2 separate regions of the Homo sapiens genome follow, and region 2 is reported to be linked to region 1. Evidence: microRNA targets listed by miRTarBase, many of them from high-throughput screens and not tested one by one. Region 1 holds a microRNA gene; the other region holds the end of a gene's coding sequence.
Evidence for each region. The annotated mature microRNA hsa-miR-654-5p reads UGGUGGGCCGCAGAACAUGUGC and lies in region 1 at 2,437-2,458, opposite strand. An mRNA with a match to its seed (bases 2 to 7 or 8) in the 3' UTR can be bound and repressed. Matches are read on the target gene's strand: a 7mer-m8 pairs with bases 2 to 8, a 7mer-A1 pairs with bases 2 to 7 and ends in A, and an 8mer does both.

Region 1 (4,396 bases):
TCTGCCCAAAGCCACTGCCTCCAGGAAGCCCTCCTGGTGAACACTGGCTAAGGGAGGTTAGAAGATGCAGTCACATGCATCATTAAAGAAAAAAGAGAAACAGAAATCCAACGCACTCCGTTTGCAAATCACAAAGCAGCACTATGACAAGTGTCCCTTCTCCTGAATTTGGCATTGTATTCAGAAAGCCATCTGAGCAGTTAGTTGTTACTCAGAAGTATTCATCTAGGGCAAGATTCGTCAAAGGAAAATGAGATTCTCATGGGCCAACTCTCTCTGAATAAACACATGCTAACACCAGGAATCCAAGGGTCTTTCCATTGGCAAGAATCCCTAAAGGACACCAATGGACTAAGAGAGCAGTGGGGCTTAGAGGTCCCAGCAGCAAGTCCTGTAGCCACACTGGGTGCTCTGGGGCCTCCTTCCTGTGGACTGGCCTTCCCTCAAGTGGACAGTGAGGTCCAAAAGTCACTCCAAGGATGGGCTAGGTATGGAGAGTGGGTAGACCAGATGACCCACATCTACATTAGACATTGACTTTGCTGACGGTCATTCTTTCATGTATCTGGGAGATGCACTGACCACGAGACCTCTTCTCAGAGGCTGGCATCATGCTGGGCAGACCTGCCGGAGTAGCAGCCCATGGATGCTTTGTGATAAGTAGGGCCCATCAAGGGAGGCCCTTTGTTCTTTTCTTTTTTTTTTAACCTATTGTGTTGAGACAGGGGTCTCTGTCAGCCAGGCTGAAGTGCAGTGGCACAATCTTGGCTCACTACAACCTCCCAACTCCCGGGCTCAAGTGATCCTCCAGCCTCAACCTCCTAAGTACTGGGACCACAGGCGCACACCATGACACCCAGCTAATTTTTGTATTTTTTGCAGAGATGGGGTTTCGCCAAGTTGCCCACGCTAGTTTCGAACTCCTGGGCTTAAGCCATCCACCGTCTCAGCCTCCCAAAGGGCTGGGGTTACAAGCGTGAGCCACCGTGCCCGGCCAAGGTAGGCCCTTTTTGCTAGGCAGAACAGGTGGTCTGAAGAGAAAACCCTATATCATCTCCAAAGCCAGCATCTCTTCCAGAAAGTTCTTGGAAGGAAGCATGAGATGAGGAGGGTCAGAGAACCAGGTCACAAACAGCAAGACAGAGGCACATGCCCTGTGGTCAACCATCCACACCCCAGGGCTATCCTGGCCATCTAACAGGTTGCTGGAGTCAGCCTTGTTCCCAAGAAGGCTTCCCAGGCAGGATTTGCTCCCCAGAGAGAGTCTGCCCTTGTATAATCATTGCAAGTAAAGCAAATGCGTGAAGGATTACCTCTCTTCAAGTAGCAAATGATGGCAGTGACAGGAAGGCCATTTCCTCTGTGACTAAGTTGCCACCAGCTCCAGGAGCAAGCCTTAGAGACACAGATGGGATCTGCATGGTGAGAGCAGCACACCGAGGTGTGAAGTGCAGGCCCGTGGGTGAATCACACATCTATTCCTTCCATAGCCCCTGAAGCAGTGCCCCTTCCTGAAATTGACAGCCCACTCAGGTATTCTCTAAGGTACAACTAGTCACAGTAAAAGAGGTTCATTCCAGAAAATGCATTGCAATCATGGTAAACATACAGAGAACAAACTTCATTCAAGGTCAATGAGGCAATACTGAGAACACAGCCTTGTAACAACACATTATGTGTGCACCAAGGGCAGTGAGCAAACAGCAGAGAAGCTGACGGCGTATTTCATACAAAGTACAATTCTGTGTCTGTCCGTCCTGTACCCAGGAGGGGTACAGATAACATCTCCTCTTCCATGGCGACTTCACGTCCTCCGAGGTTTTCAAAGCAGCATTTGATACTGAAAACGTGGATTTTCCTCTATGATTAATCATAAATAATGTACTCATAGAAGGAGAATCTACCTTTTAAATACCAAAGAAGGATTCCATCCAGGAAAGCGTGCACCTGTGCTTGAGTCATCAGAAAAGAAAGTCACATGAGGCAGACGAGCTTCCAGGGAAGAACTGGCACCACGAGACCCACAATTTAATCTTCACCAAGTTGGCGTCTCGAGATGGTTCTCGGGCATACCCCGTTCATTCAGATACGACGTGCGGCCTACCATCTTTGCACCTACTCAGGCCCTACGGTCTCTTCCAGAAACATTTCCAAAGCAGCATTTGATACTGAAAACATGGATTTTCCTCTATGATTAACCAGGAATCACGTAAACATAGAAGGAATATCCACGTTTTAAATACCAAAGAAGGACTGGGCTCTGGAAAGGACAAATCTGAACACAGTTCATGGAAAATGGAAGCAAGACAGTAAAGCAACCGTTTTCAGTCCCGTAGCATAGCTGTGACAACACACCACAGCCTGTGCACCAAGCTGGCTCCTCAGCGAAAGGGGGCTTCTAAAGGTGATGGTCAGCAGACATATGGCACGAACTCAGCACATGTTCTGCGGCCCACCATCTTTCCACTTACCCTGGAGGGCTCAGCCCCACCTCACGTCCCTGATGGTGGCTTCAGTCCAGCCATGATCCCAAGGCAGCATTTGATACTGAAAACGTGGATTTTCCTCTATGATTAACCATCAAACACGTAACCATAGAAGGAAAATCTACCTTTTAAATACCAAAGAAGGTTTCATCCCGGAAAGCACGAACCTAAGTACAATCCATCAAACACAAAAGTAACATAGCACAGAGGAGAGCATTCGGCCTCATGGAGAAAATGACGACGGAGCCCAGCCGCTTGGCCGAGCGGGCAGCTTGCGAGAGGGGTCTCCTCAAGGCGGGTGGGTGGTCCGCAGACATATGGCACGAATTCAGCACATGTTCTGAGGTCCACCGACTTTCCACTTACCCTGGAGTGGGGGGGGGGACTTTATTGTCTCTTCCCTGATGGTGGTTTCAGTCCAGGAATGTTTCCAAGCAGCATTTGATACTGAAAACGTGGAATTTCCTCTATGTTTAACCATAAATAACATAAACATAGAAGGAATATCCACCTTTTAAATACCAAAGAAGGATTGAGTCCTGGAAAGCATGAACCTAAGCACAATCTATCAAAATTAAAGACAGCACAGGATAGGTGCAGTCGGCAGGGGCCTCCCGGGCTAGCGGCAGTGACATGGGCCCTGCGGAGGACGCATGTCCCAGGACAGACCTTGCTAACAAGAGCTTAGGTTCTGGGATTCACCTTCCATCACTCTCCGCATGGGGGAGGGAGCTAACCTTCCTCTCAGAAATGTTCAGAAATGTTTTAAAAGCAGCCTTAGATACTGAAAATGCGGATTTTCCTCTATGATTCACCATAAATCCTGTAAGCATAGAAGGAACATCCACCTTTTAGATGGGAAAAGTGGGAACAGCCCTGGAGAGCACAAACGCAAACATGATTCATGAAAGACAGAAGGTAACAGAAGCAGGTGAGCACTTTGCGAGTCCCACGTGGGAAGCGCAGGGCCCACCCCTGGCCTCTTCACATCCAGAGATGGAACTCCTATGCAGGCAAACGTAAGTTTGGGGTCTGCCCTGCTGTCACTCGTCTGGGTGGGGGTAACCCTAATGTCTCTTCCCTAATGGAGGCTTCATGGTCAAGAGCGTTTCCAAAGTAGCATTTAATTCTGAAAAAAAAAAAAAAAAAAAGTGAATGTACATCAAAAATTTGCCACAAGTAAAGCAGGCAAAGTAGGGATTCTATGCTTTGAATTCGAAAAATATCAAAAACAAAAAGAAAATAAGCCTGTCAGGTTCCTAAAGTCACATCGCCTCCATGAAGCCCTCCCAAGGCACCTAATGACCAATGTCATGTAACTGTGGGCTGGAGCATCCTTCACATACCTTGGAGGGAGAAGGACACCCAAGAATCTTCCAGAGACTGAAGCTTGTGTCCAGAAAGTTTCAATCGGCAGGACTGGTCATGTTGGTGTGACAGACTGAGGAATAGGCAAACAGGTCAAAAACAATGTCTCTTTAAATACAACTGAGAGAGGTAGCAAAACATGATGCTCACCAGCCCCTACCACCACCACCCTCCACCACCACCACCACCACCACCACCAACACCACCAACACCACCACCACCAACACCACCACCACCACCACCACCAGTACCACCACCACCACCACCACCACCACCAACACCACCACCACCAACACCACCACCACCATCAGTACCACCACCACCACCACCACCACCAATACCACCAATACCACCACCACCACCACCATCACAACCACCACCACCAACACCACCACCACCAACACCACCACCACCAACACCACCAGTACCACCACCATCACAACCACCACCACCAACACCACCAACACCACCACCACCAACACCACCACCACCACCACCATCAGTACCACCACCACCACCACCACCACCACCACCACCACCAC
Region 2 (4,396 bases), not on the chromosome of region 1:
AAACGTTGTGCAATGACCAGGTCATATTTTTAAGATCACTCTTTAAAATATCATTTTACTGATCACAAAATTATATAATAAGGATCTTATATGGGTTAGGTATTAAGTTTGATACCAAAGCAACTATAGCATCAAGCTACATAAATATTAGCACCATTTTTTATCTAGTCCAGTGAAATGTAAAACTATCCATCAAACTGTTTTTTACCAAAGCAGTCAACAAGAAAAATTGTTTTACTTCTGATATATGCTTTGCTCCTCCTCCTCTTTGCTAGTAATACTTTTGAACACTTTAAAGAAAGTACAGTCGGCCCTCTGTATCCGTGAGTTCTGCATCCATGGATTCAACCAAATACAAATTGAAAATATTTGGGGGCAAAAAGGATGGTTTCACTTGTGCTGAACATGTACAGGCTTTTTTTTCCTTGTCATTATTCCCTAAACAATATAGTATAACAACTATTTACAGAGCATTTACATTGTATTAGGTATTTTAAGTAATCTAGAGATGATTTAAAGCATACAGGAGGATGTGTCTAGGATATATGCAAATACTACACCATTTTATAGAAGGGGTTTGAGTATCCATGGAGTTTGGCATCCTAAGGGAGGCCTGGAACCAATGCCCCATGGATACTGAGAGGCGACTGTACCATAACATTCCATTTACAAAGTGTGTGCCCAGAACAGCATTATCAACCTGAAAAAGGATAGTGGAAGACCCTACAGATTTTTTTTAACTTACGAATTGTGCAGAATTATCTTCTGGAAGTTATGGCTTCCAATAACAGCCATCTTGCTTGCTCTCGTTCTTACAATTTAGTCAGCTGAGTTCAAGTGACCCAAGTATAAATACCCTTCAAGTTGCTAGCAATTGATCTTCGATGAAACACAATGACAAAGATATTACATATGAAATGGTATAAATATGTGCCTCCTACCTAATACGCAAGTAAGATCACCTATAGCCTATTATACATTTATTCATTTTTAAAATGAATCTTTTGAAGATCCATTTATTCACATTTTTCCAAGTAAATAGAATATTAACTATAACTACTAACTATAATCTTTTAAAGATTCATTTTAAAAGTGAATAAATGTGCTTAGAAATTTTAGGGGGGAGAACACACATAACATACATATAACCAGAGGTGCCAAGTATTTTAACATCTCCTAACTAAGGGCAGTTAAAAGACAAAGAATCGATTCCTGTTCACTTCTCCTCCCGCGGACTTAATGTCCAGCAGAGTGCTAGACAATATTGCTTCAATATTCTATTACTTTAATATTAAAAGCAGTAACAAAATCAAAAAGCATATTTATGACATTGTTTTAATTAAGTTAAAATCAAAATTTTAAAAAGAGTTTTATGTAGCATTTATTTTAAATATCATTGGGTTCTCTGTTTCAGACTTTTTCAACATGAAAGGTAATTTTTAAACTGTCTCACTGTCTTGCAGGTTGTCCCAAGAATTAGGAACATGATTACAACCACATTCATTTCTAGAATGAAAAGAAAGAATTAGGACCATCAGACTGTTAACAACTATCAAATTTTCACAGGTTCAAAAGGTAATTGACACTCTTTAAAAAAGAAAGAAAAGAAACCCTAACCAACTAAGGACTTGGATGTAAGATGAAGGCTTACAATTCATACTGATTTATTAACCATTCATGCACTTTAAAAGCACTTTAAAAATCCCGTTCATTTGTCTTCCACTTAAAAAGAGGAAAAAATTGGCCAATATTTGCCTTCTACATTATATCTCTGTCTGGAGTTTTAAGTAGTAAGTACATTAAATATAAGTTTGTTTTCTAAACAAGAGAAAAGTCTGGCGGTTCAAAGTCTAGAGGAAGTCGGGTTTCTAAGGCAGTCCGTCAGTGTGGGGCCTGCACCACTCTCTAAGGCCGTCTTTCCTAGATTGTCAGCTGCAACACAAGCCTGAGCTGGATGACTAACACCGAACATGCAAGAAGCGACTTTAAAGGAACAGTTTTCACAATCAGCTAGCTACACCATCACAAATTGCCACATTAAGGTGATCTTTAGGTACCTGTGTCGTTTAAAGACTTTAATAATAGTTAATACCAAAATTCACCAGTTACTAGCAAGGCTGTTTTGGACAACATGTAAAATTTCCTCTTTTGAAATATACATCTCAATGATTAGGAGAGATCTGTAAGGAAACAAATTCACCTCAAAACTATGCAAATATTTAAAAAGTTTTTTTAAGCTCACAATACTTCAGTATGTGTTTTCAAAGCTTAAACAGTTATCATGTGTGAAGAGTTTATGGGGAATGAAAGCAATATGTTCTAAAAATTGACTATGGTTTTCCAAAGACCCAGAGAAAAATACTAAGGTAATACTCAGCCTCACGTCCACTCACACATCTTCGGGTGCCAAGCTGGCATAGGCAGAGCACCATTATCTCTTATAAGGAACTTAGCACATATCCTTCTAGCAGATTCTTGTCTCCACAGGATGGAGAAGACATCATTCATTTGATGGAAACCAGTGTTTGTTAAAACCATTTTTCTACCCCCAAAGCAAACATACTAAAGAGAAGGAGCACTATTTACATAAATTTGTGCCTACCCACACACCACCATTCTCTCCCATTAAAGTGTAGATAAGATCTACTGGCTAGGAATCAAAGAGTAACGTATTTCAACCTAAAGTTTGAATACTGTACATCATCAAGACTTTGTTATTGTTAAGTGCTATAAAGAAAAAGAGAAAGTAGGGGTGGGCAGTCTATCTAACAGGCATCTTCACACTGGTCCCCATCCCAGTGGAACAAGCAATGCCAATGTACCAAGTGCAATTCCAGATTGTAAGTTTGAAATGTCATTGCCAGCCATTACAGAAGAGGCAAAAGTCCACAGTGGGTGTATGCCAAAAGGTCAAGTGTGACAAGGGACTGAATCCACAGTATGTATTCTTTAAAAAAAAAAAAAAAGGCAATAAAAAAAGTGAGTCTTTGACTACTCAAAAGAAACTTTACTACTACTGTACACACATATTGTGTTGTGTGCACTTCGTCTATTGGAATGTACTTGAGCTATTAAACTATTAAATAATAACTGCCTAGATGATCACTGAAAGAGAAAAAGAGACCCTCGCCCAGCCCAGATAATTCTTAAATATCACAATCTACATAAAGATGCTGCTGAACTGAAATACAAATAAGTTAAAAATTTTCAGGAACTAGCAAAGTTCTACTTTCATTATACATGGAATCAGTAGTAGTGCTGACACTCATTTTTGACTTGATATTCTTTCACAAACAAAACGGCATATAAGGAAAACGAGTCTTATGCTGTAGGATGGAATGATCTTATAGCTATGGAATCTGGAAAGTTATTTAGAACAAGATGATAATAGGCTCTACCTAAGCTTATGAAAAGAATACTGAACTGTAAGCATCTGTTGCCATTTAAAGGCATTTGGTGTCAGTATCTTAAAAGATTAAGATGCTTTAAAACAAAAACCTTATAAGAATATCAAAGATTTAGGGAATTATCTTCATAAATAACCAAATGTCTATGGCTTCAACTGTCTGCCCTACTGCCGAGGTAGGTGACCAATATTCATCAAAATAAAACAATCTTTTACAAATTCCCTAAAAAAAACCTTGCATAATCAGTTGGTTTCTTAAACCTGTGTCCGTTTCTTTTGATGGTTTTTGTTTTGTTTTTCCTTTCAGTCATTTACACTTTTTAAAAGAGGCTGTCCACGCAAGTGTTTCTTTAAGCTCTTGCCGAATAGCACCTCATGTATTCTGTCATCCACGGGTTCTCTGAGGAGGAAGCCTTCATCTTTCTGTTCTTCTCCACATCCACAGAGTGAGCTCGCTGCCTTTGAGCAACCAGTTTCCTTTTTTCCACCTGTCTTCTGTTCTTGGCTCGTAATGCTGATTCATGAATCTAAAGAGAGTTCAAAATAAAGGATAGTAACTTAAGGGGCTATTATACTAATGTTCAACAGAGGTTGCAATGAAGCTGGCTACTGCCAGGTCAACTGCAGCAGGGCAGAGTCAAGCCCTGCCTCTCTATATAGTTCTTCTTTACATAAAACCTTCCACAGAAGAGCCATTCTCACTTGATGCTGTTCTCACTTGATTCATATCAGGGATAATGAAACTAAGCAACAGCAAATTAAATGTTAGACAGAAATGGTAAGCAACTAATTTGCATGTGCCTCTAGAGTTGGCTCTGGAAAACTGTCCGAACTGCTTAGCATTAAACATAAGTATTTAATTAACGACTTATAAACAGCTCATAAAAAGCAGGGAAAATAAAAGAACTTTAAATGTTTAACATCAGTATACCAAAGACATCTCGAGATTTTACCACCTAAGATGTCTTATACTACAGATAAATCCTGTTA

Region 2: miRTarBase lists CCSAP as a target of hsa-miR-654-5p. Seed matches in the 3' UTR shown: 7mer-m8 at 2,752-2,758.

Annotation. Positions count from the first base shown.
Region 1 is chr14:101,038,296-101,042,691 of GRCh38, reverse strand. It overlaps MIR654 (microRNA 654), which reads right to left and starts at 2,473; the gene lies at 2,393-2,473. MIR376C (microRNA 376c) reads right to left here and starts at 3,002; the gene lies at 2,937-3,002. MIR376A2 (microRNA 376a-2) reads right to left here and starts at 2,623; the gene lies at 2,544-2,623. It overlaps MIR376B (microRNA 376b), which reads right to left and starts at 2,256; the gene lies at 2,157-2,256. It also overlaps MIR376A1 and MIR300.
Region 2 is chr1:229,321,479-229,325,874 of GRCh38, forward strand. CCSAP (centriole, cilia and spindle associated protein) reads right to left here. Exons shown (of 4, transcript NM_145257.5): 4 at 1-3,933. The coding sequence ends at 3,757. Among named protein-coding and RNA genes, the nearest start is that of CCSAP, 19 kb to the right of the region's middle.